Linked DNA regions of Homo sapiens. The protein of the gene in region 2 purifies or fractionates together with the protein of the main gene of each other region. This does not show direct contact. Each region holds a gene or a part of one and is shown on either strand. Other genes may lie near its edges.

Region 1 (3,825 bases), on a different chromosome or scaffold from region 2:
CTCTGTCTCAGTATCTGAAGTTTTTGTCTCCAGAGAAGTCATTTTGTAGGTGTTCCTGGGCGTTTTTGCTACGTTTCCATTTTCTCTAATACACTGCCGTCTTAAGGGAGGGCTTGCAGAGCATTTATCAGATGGCTGTTTTGCTGCATTCTGTGCACTGAAGAACACATTTCCTCCTGAAATAAAAACATACACAATAAAAACATTCTATTAGTGTCTCATGTCAATCGAGTATTACAGCCTCATAAAATATGGTAAAAAACTAAATATTTAGCTTCGTATTCACTGAACGACATGAGGCTACTTATGTGTCTATAAATCTGTCTTATAAGAGCCATGCACAATTAAGAATAATGTTATTTGGTGCTATAGTGGGGTCATCATTAAGCAAAGTTAGATGCTGAAATGATCATAGAAGGTAAAAATACTGCTTCAGAAGGTTCCTCCAAAGGTTGCCATGCCCTGTGTCATTGACGTAAATATAGGCATTTTTTCCTTCAAACATTAGAAACAAACAGCTGTTTCTTGCCTTAAATCGCCAATAAAATAACATGGATTATCCTTATGTGGTTAGGGTCCATATTACACAGGAAATATTTACCTACCGCAAACATCTTCAGGGTAGCAAGCTGTTCCCTCTGTGACAGGAATACAGTGACCAGTGCCAAATGAGAGATTAGACAGATTCTCATCTCCCATCTCACACTTACCCCGGGCCTGCTCCCACCTAAAAGGTTAGCAGGAATAATTGCACAGTATACAAACTGTTATCTTTCTGTTTTGTAATTGGCAGTAATTTTGAATATGAGTAATTTATATGTAAATATGGTGAGACACCATTGTATTTTTTTGCTATGTCACCCTGGTTACTTACAATAAAGAAGCCAAAAGTGTACACAGGTCATTTACACACATTAACGGAGTCTTTCTTTCTATATAAGTCAATGAATGCCAATGTTAGTTCAACTGCTGATTGAAATCTCCCTTTCAATTAGAACAGAGAAGACGGAAATGGTATTTTGTGCCAGGAACATTTGTTTTAGAGAAGTAATATCATACTGCTTGTAAAAAAATAATACTGTATGTTCCTATCCCAAAACATCACAGTGTTAGGAAACAAGGAAACCAACCAAAACTCTCTGAGGTGGGGAGCAGAGGTTCTTCTCCTGAATCAGTTCCTTGAAACTGTTTTCCAAGCAAATTCTCTGAATTTGAAATAGCGATGTGACATGTGCTTGTCAACTGCGGTTGCTCCTTCACTGGGGTCTTGAACATTTCAGCTATTCCTGTTAAATGAAAATATTTGAAAAGTGATTGACATATTGCTAACATGCAGACAACCATCCCAGCCCTCACATGTAACGTGCAAATGGTGGGAAATAACAGTAGATTCCTCCCTTGAAATCCTGGTACATAGGCCTCATAAAAAGAGTGATTCCATTAATAATGTACTCATTTTGTAAAAAAGAGAGCACAGAGAAGATATGTTATGCTCTTCGCTTTGCTTTTCTTGGAAAGGAAACAAATGAAGTTAGCTGACCTCTGGGTCCTCCTAACAAGACCCCACACGTGAGCTCTGGAGCACGGAGGCTGGTGACGGGCTCCTGAGACCCATAGGCCTCCCTGCTAGGATCTAGAGGCCAAATGCCTTCATGCTTCTCAAAGTCTTGGGTGCTCAGTTCTAGATTTTAAGTACAAATAACACGTACCCACATTTTAGAAAATGACAAAGAGCTGCCCATTTTTAGTACTGTCAAGTAATAATATATATTTTTGAAAATCTAATATCATTATCATTCTGTTTGGAATGATAGGAGGCCTCAGCCTCCCAAAGTGTTGGGATTACAGGCGTGAGCCACTGCGCCGGCCATCCCCACTTTAAATTACACAAGTCAGGCCACAATTTACTGAGAGTGGGAATTGAATGGAAATATTTCTTCAACAATCGTTTATGGGAATCTTCTCATAGGGCTTTCTTTCAAGAAAGTTAAGCTACCTAGAAAGTCAATCCTGAAGAAGCAAAATGTTGCTCAACAACAACTGGCCCACACCTGGGATAAACTATTATTGTACCTGCAGATTAACAAGTTAACTCTCTTCACTGTAAAGCACCTTCCAGCTTTCTATGTATACGCTGCTCTCCAGGGTAAAGACATGCATTTGACATTTCCACACCTATTTCATGCAGGACATGTGATCCCAAAAATTAGCAGAGACTTGTCTTTGCAAGCCAAAACAGCTTTATCTTCCCTGAACACTAAGACCCCAGAAGGGTGATTGAGTCGTTTATTTTATAATCTCTTTCACAGCAGATAAACAAAGTTAGCAAAACAAACATTAACACAGTAAAAAACAGTAGAGTCAAAAGATTTATAAGATCTAAGACTACGTTTTTACCTGAAAGATCTTCCTTAAAGTCCATTTTTTGGTTGGAAATGAAGTTGTTGAGCACTCTGTAGGGTCGAGCAGGCACATGTACTTTTTCAGTATGAGCTTTCCCTATTATTATGGTACAAGGAGAGTTTGCGTGGCCTGTACTAAATTGACTGTGAACTTCGCCCACAGGCTTCTGTAGAAAACAGGAAGGAGGTAAACAGGACATTAAAGCATAAATCCACACTGAATGCAAGCTTCGATGACACCGGTATGTGTAAAGCAGCCATTCAGTGAGGCCCCTACCTTTGGAGTAGCAGGTCTTCTTTGCCTTTTGTTCATTGACCTTTGAGGACCATGTTTTATGACTTTAGTTTGTGTTTGTTTTGCACCAAGTTTTACTACATCTGCCCATGATTTTGCAACTGTCAAAGGGAAAAGACGAAACTTTTCAAAAATTAGCATTCATGAAAAAATTCACCTTAATATATGTATTCTAATGTCAGACTAACCAATCAGATTTGCTTCCGAAGCACCACTTCTTCTTTTGGAACATATCATCTGTAAAATATCATGTTGACTTCGGCTGATAGACACTCTCTTTGAAGGCAGGTTGCCACTCTTTCTCCCTCCTCTCTTAGGAACCTCTGTCTGAGATTTGCTGCTGGAAGCAGGGGCTGTTTTGCAGGACCTACGGCGTTGATCACTGGCAACTGGAGTTTTCCTAGGACTAGGAGCTGGAGGGCTTATAACCAAGCTTTGTGCCTTCACTTCCACATGGATTTCTGAACCTGACTCTTGTTTTCCTGATGGTTGAGGCTGTTCCTGACAAGACAAAATTGTTTACAAGAAGCCTTAACAAGGATCTAACATCTCTGGAATGACTGATAAAAACCTATTCAGTTAAGAATTTCAGCTGTTTAAATCTTGAAGCATCAAATGCTTAAGCCACTGTCTTTGAAGACTATGGTAGAGGTGAGACTGTCTCAGTCATTTAAGGAAAAGGAAAGAGAAGCAAGCCAAGTCTGAAGTGAGGTCATTTCAGGTAAAAAGGTGGAAGGAACATCCTGATCAGTGAAAGACAAGCAGGGTCTGATCTCAGTCCCAGTAAATACCAGCTGTGAGCACCCAGCCCCCGGCAGTCCACATGGAGGGAGGACTGCTTGCCCCTGGGAGCCAGTGTAAAATGGAAAGGGAGCCAGACATCACTTTCCACTCCTGCTGGGAAGAGAAGGAAAGAAAGACCGCCCAGGCCCTATTACAAAGGTTATGAGCTATAGGGCCATGACTTCCCAGAGGTGTGAAACCCAGGAAGGACAACACAGCAAAGGAACAGGCAAGCAAATATTCTAAAGAGCTGAAGGTGTAAAAGGAAGATGTGCCATTGATTTTCCTTCACACCAGGTAAATGCCTTAACTATAGCCTTGTAACTCTAAAAGAAAATAAAACAA
Region 2 (3,825 bases):
TCTGCCCAAATGGCTGCCCAGTTTTGTGCTTGACACCCAGGGCCCCAGTGGCGTAGGCACCGGAGGGAATCTCCTGGTCTGCAGGTTTCAAAGACCATGGGAAAAGTGCAGTATCTGGGCTGGAGTGCACCGTTCCTCAGGTACAGTCCCTCATGGCTTCCCTTGGGTAGAGGAGGTAGTTCCCTGACCCCTTGTGCTTCCTGGGTGAGGTGACACCCCACCCTGTTTCAGCTGGCCCTCCATGGGCTGCACCCACTGTCCAACCAGTCCCACTGATATGAACTGGGTACCTCAGTTGGAAATGCAGAAATCACCCGCCTTCTGCGTTGATCTCACTGGGAGCTGCAGACCAGAGCTGTTCCTATTTGGCCATCTTGCCAGCAATCAGACCAGAGTTTTAAATGGACTACAAAATAGGTCAAACTCTATTTCAGAACTAGAGGCTAGGAATAATGTCCAAACTTGGTTATGAAAGTTTTTTTTTTTTTTTGGTCTGGTAGGATAAGAGGGTTTTTACTCATCTTAAGTTTGAATTAAACTTTGTAACAAAGTTATTGTTTTTTTAAACAATGCATGTATCAAATTATCTGTCTCATTAGATAACTAGGTAGACTTTTCCAAGATGGTTTCAAAATCAAATATATATTCAAAGATCTTCCAGTGTAAAGCAATAGGAATGAAACAAGCCATGAGAAAGCAGAATATTTTGAGTATATTCTCATGCCTTTCTTTAAAGGAGAAGCGCCTATCTAAACAGTTACAGAAACCCAAATTCAAAGTAGATTAAACAAGAAGTAAATTTGTAAACTCTTTTAACTGGGAGACAGGAAGTAGGGAGGGCTCCAGGCACAATATCATTAGCAGTTCAATGTGAACGAAGACCCATGTCCTTTCCAAGCCTCCCTCTGCCATCAGCATTGCCCTCCTTCCCAGGGTCACAGATGGCTATCAATGGCAAAACTGGGGTTCCGCGTTCTCTTCTCCTCATCTGGCAAGAGAAAATGGGAAATCTCTATCCCAAGCTTGGATTAAAAATTATTTTCATTTTTGTGTTCCAGCAAACTTGGGTCCTATGCCCAGCCATGGACCAAAAATAGGCTTAATGTGAATGTTATGTGCTGATTGGATTAAAATAAGTTCTGACTCTGAATCTGGGAATGTGGTCACCTTCCTCAGAGACAAGTTGAGAGGTTGGCTTATCTGAATAAAAGCAGAGAATATGAGATGCTGGAGAGGTGTTCATTAAGGAGAACATTCCCTGAGGTGAATTAACGGTTAGAATTATCTATCTCTGTATTTATCTATCCACCCATCTATCATCATCATCACCTCATCTCCCTCCTTTCTCTCTCTCTAAATATATACATGCGGGTATGTTGAGTGTGTATATATTTATTTTTTTGTGTGTTTATATGGTGTGTGTGTGTGTGTATTCCAGGCAGATGTGTGCATATATACCCAAACTTTCCTGATGACCTTGAAATTAAATGGGTCATGTGAAGCTAAAGATTATAGAACCCCTTGATTCCTTTATAAACAGTATTTCTAAGATAAGATCAACACTAATCTTTCAAATTAGTTGACTGTGTATAGAACAACTTGTTTATTTAAAGTCATCTAGTCTAATGCAATCAAGGAGTAAATTATAAATAACCAGTTAGCATAAATGGAAAGAAAATAGTTCCTTTTCTTTGAATTCATTTCATGTTTAATTTTTCTTGCGCACATATAGAAATGAATAGAAATATTCCCATTTCAATATGCAAATTCAGCCACTATATAGTTTGTTTCTTTTTGGTAGCTAATAATAATAAATTTTTAAGTAAGATCTGATTTTGAAATATGAAAAGAAGTTTATCCTTTCCTGTTTTAATACCACCTGATACCCGTTTAACTTACTGTGTTTGATTCTTGGGGACATTTATGTTCAAGGTTCTGTCAAAGCAATCTATTATTCTTGTTTTTACCTGATGGATCATGGAGAAAAATAATGGATTCAGTTATGAGAAACAGTAATAGATTTTTTTAACTGCCATAAATTTCTCTCCCTGTATTAAATAAAAGGATCAGGAAAAGATAAGTTGAATTTTCCTACAATGAGCCAGCTCTTCTTAAATTTACCTCCCATAAATTGTAGCAAAGCACTTTTCATATAATGTTTTATTTATGTAATTCAGTTATTTGGAGATGGTGGTGAGGGATGTGAGTACATCATTTCATGTTGTATTTCAAATCTCTTTTGACAGAAACCCTAAGAATTTGCAATAAAGAAAATTCAATGTTCCATTAAGTTTTTCTTTTTCTTTTTTTTTAAAAAGAGGGTAAGGAAGGAAATAAGGGAATAGATTTAAGTTACCTAAGGTCAAAAGAGGCACAGGGTAGACTCTGAATAGTTGTGGAACCTGAATATTTTGTCATCAAAAACAAAGTTAAAGTCAGAGTGACCAGGAATCTGCAAACTGGCTGTGGGAATGGGTTGACTTAAAAGACAGACAAAGAACTAGCCTGTGGGGTAACATCAGGCTAGGCTCACCCTCAGCTTCTACCCACAATATCTGTATGATGACCATGTGGATCTAATGAACCAGGAGGGGCCCAAACTCTTCCGACTCTGTGGAGGCCTAAAGGAAACTGTTGCCATTGGAAGGATGCCATACCACTACCCAGCTGGAGCTTCCTGAAGGAAGCAGAGCCCAGCTGGTGTTCCATGGTTTGTTAAGCATATGCCATACCTACAATCACTTTTTTCATGGTCTGGTTGAGCATATGATTTCTGAACCAAATAGCCTTTCTGGTATTGTGTCATTGGTGACTCATTATGATTCTTTAAAAAGACACATTATGTGAGCTAGAATGGTGATGATTTGGGTACCTTATTCAAATTGCATCATCATTTAATTCAAGAGAAAGGCCATTCTTAAAGTAAAAGTAAATGAGGTTTGTACACCTGGGTATTGGAATTGCCAGTGGGCTGATCTGACAATGTTTGATTCTTGTTTTTTCTGGAATTATTATGTAGAAGATTCAGTCTATAATCTTCAACATGATGCAAATATTCAGTGTCATAGGATCAAAAAAATGCTGGAAAGTATCTAAAAATCTTTTAAATTCATATCTTAATTTTCAGTGTTATCCTCTTACTGCCTACATTCCCCCACTAAACTCTTAGATTTTTCTCTGCTTTTGTTAAGAAAGTGATGTTAGTAGGCCTCTCAAGTTATTTATGAAATTTAGAAATATACTGGAGAACAAAGTAGTATATAAACCCTGAATTTCAAAAGCCTTAACAAGTTTAGCTTCAATCTACATTCAGATGACACTATCTACAGAGATGTTATAAGATTAAATTACAAGAAAAGAGATGCCCAATTATTTCCATTTACTCTTCTTGCCTAGGTAGTTAATTTATCTATTATTCATTTGAAGCAACAGACGTCAATGTAACATCTTTTTCATTTTCATGGAGAATAATCAGCTTTTCCAGAAAAGGGTGCTATATCTCAAACACACCTCAAGTGTCCAGTTGGAAGTATTACCATGCAGAGGATTCAAGTCATATTACCTAATAACCAGAAGTTGTATGTTGGGAAAAAGTGGTTAAAAGCAACTAAAACTGCCCTGTTTGGAAGAAACTAAATATTGCTTTATAATGATTTTCTGATATTTTAGAATAGAGGCTTCAATTATACTATTTGTGAAAAAGAAAACTGCTTGGTATTAACCAAGTTACATTTAATTTTTATGGTCCACAAAATTTCAGAGTAGAAATATATCATAGCTTTTAATCAATTTTCAAAATCTATATTTAATTATTGATTCAAAAAA

What was found.
Region 1: the proteins of FRK (region 2) and MKI67 purify together in Homo sapiens (affinity purification with mass spectrometry; one large-scale study listed by BioGRID and IntAct). This does not show direct contact.

Annotation. Positions count from the first base shown.
Region 1 is NC_000010.11:128,109,248-128,113,072, forward strand, and holds part of MKI67 (proliferation marker protein Ki-67), read right to left. Parts: intron 3,199-3,825; coding exon 2,886-3,198; intron 2,799-2,885; coding exon 2,680-2,798; intron 2,570-2,679; coding exon 2,398-2,569; intron 1,287-2,397; coding exon 1,131-1,286; exon of another isoform or gene 700-1,130; coding exon of another isoform or gene 606-699; intron 177-605; coding exon 1-176. UniProt on the Homo sapiens protein: Protein that associates with the surface of mitotic chromosomes and acts both as a chromosome repellent during early mitosis and chromosome attractant during late mitosis.
Region 2 is NC_000006.12:115,931,607-115,935,431, reverse strand, and holds part of FRK (tyrosine-protein kinase FRK), read left to right. Parts: 3' UTR 1-3,825. UniProt on the Homo sapiens protein: Non-receptor tyrosine-protein kinase that negatively regulates cell proliferation.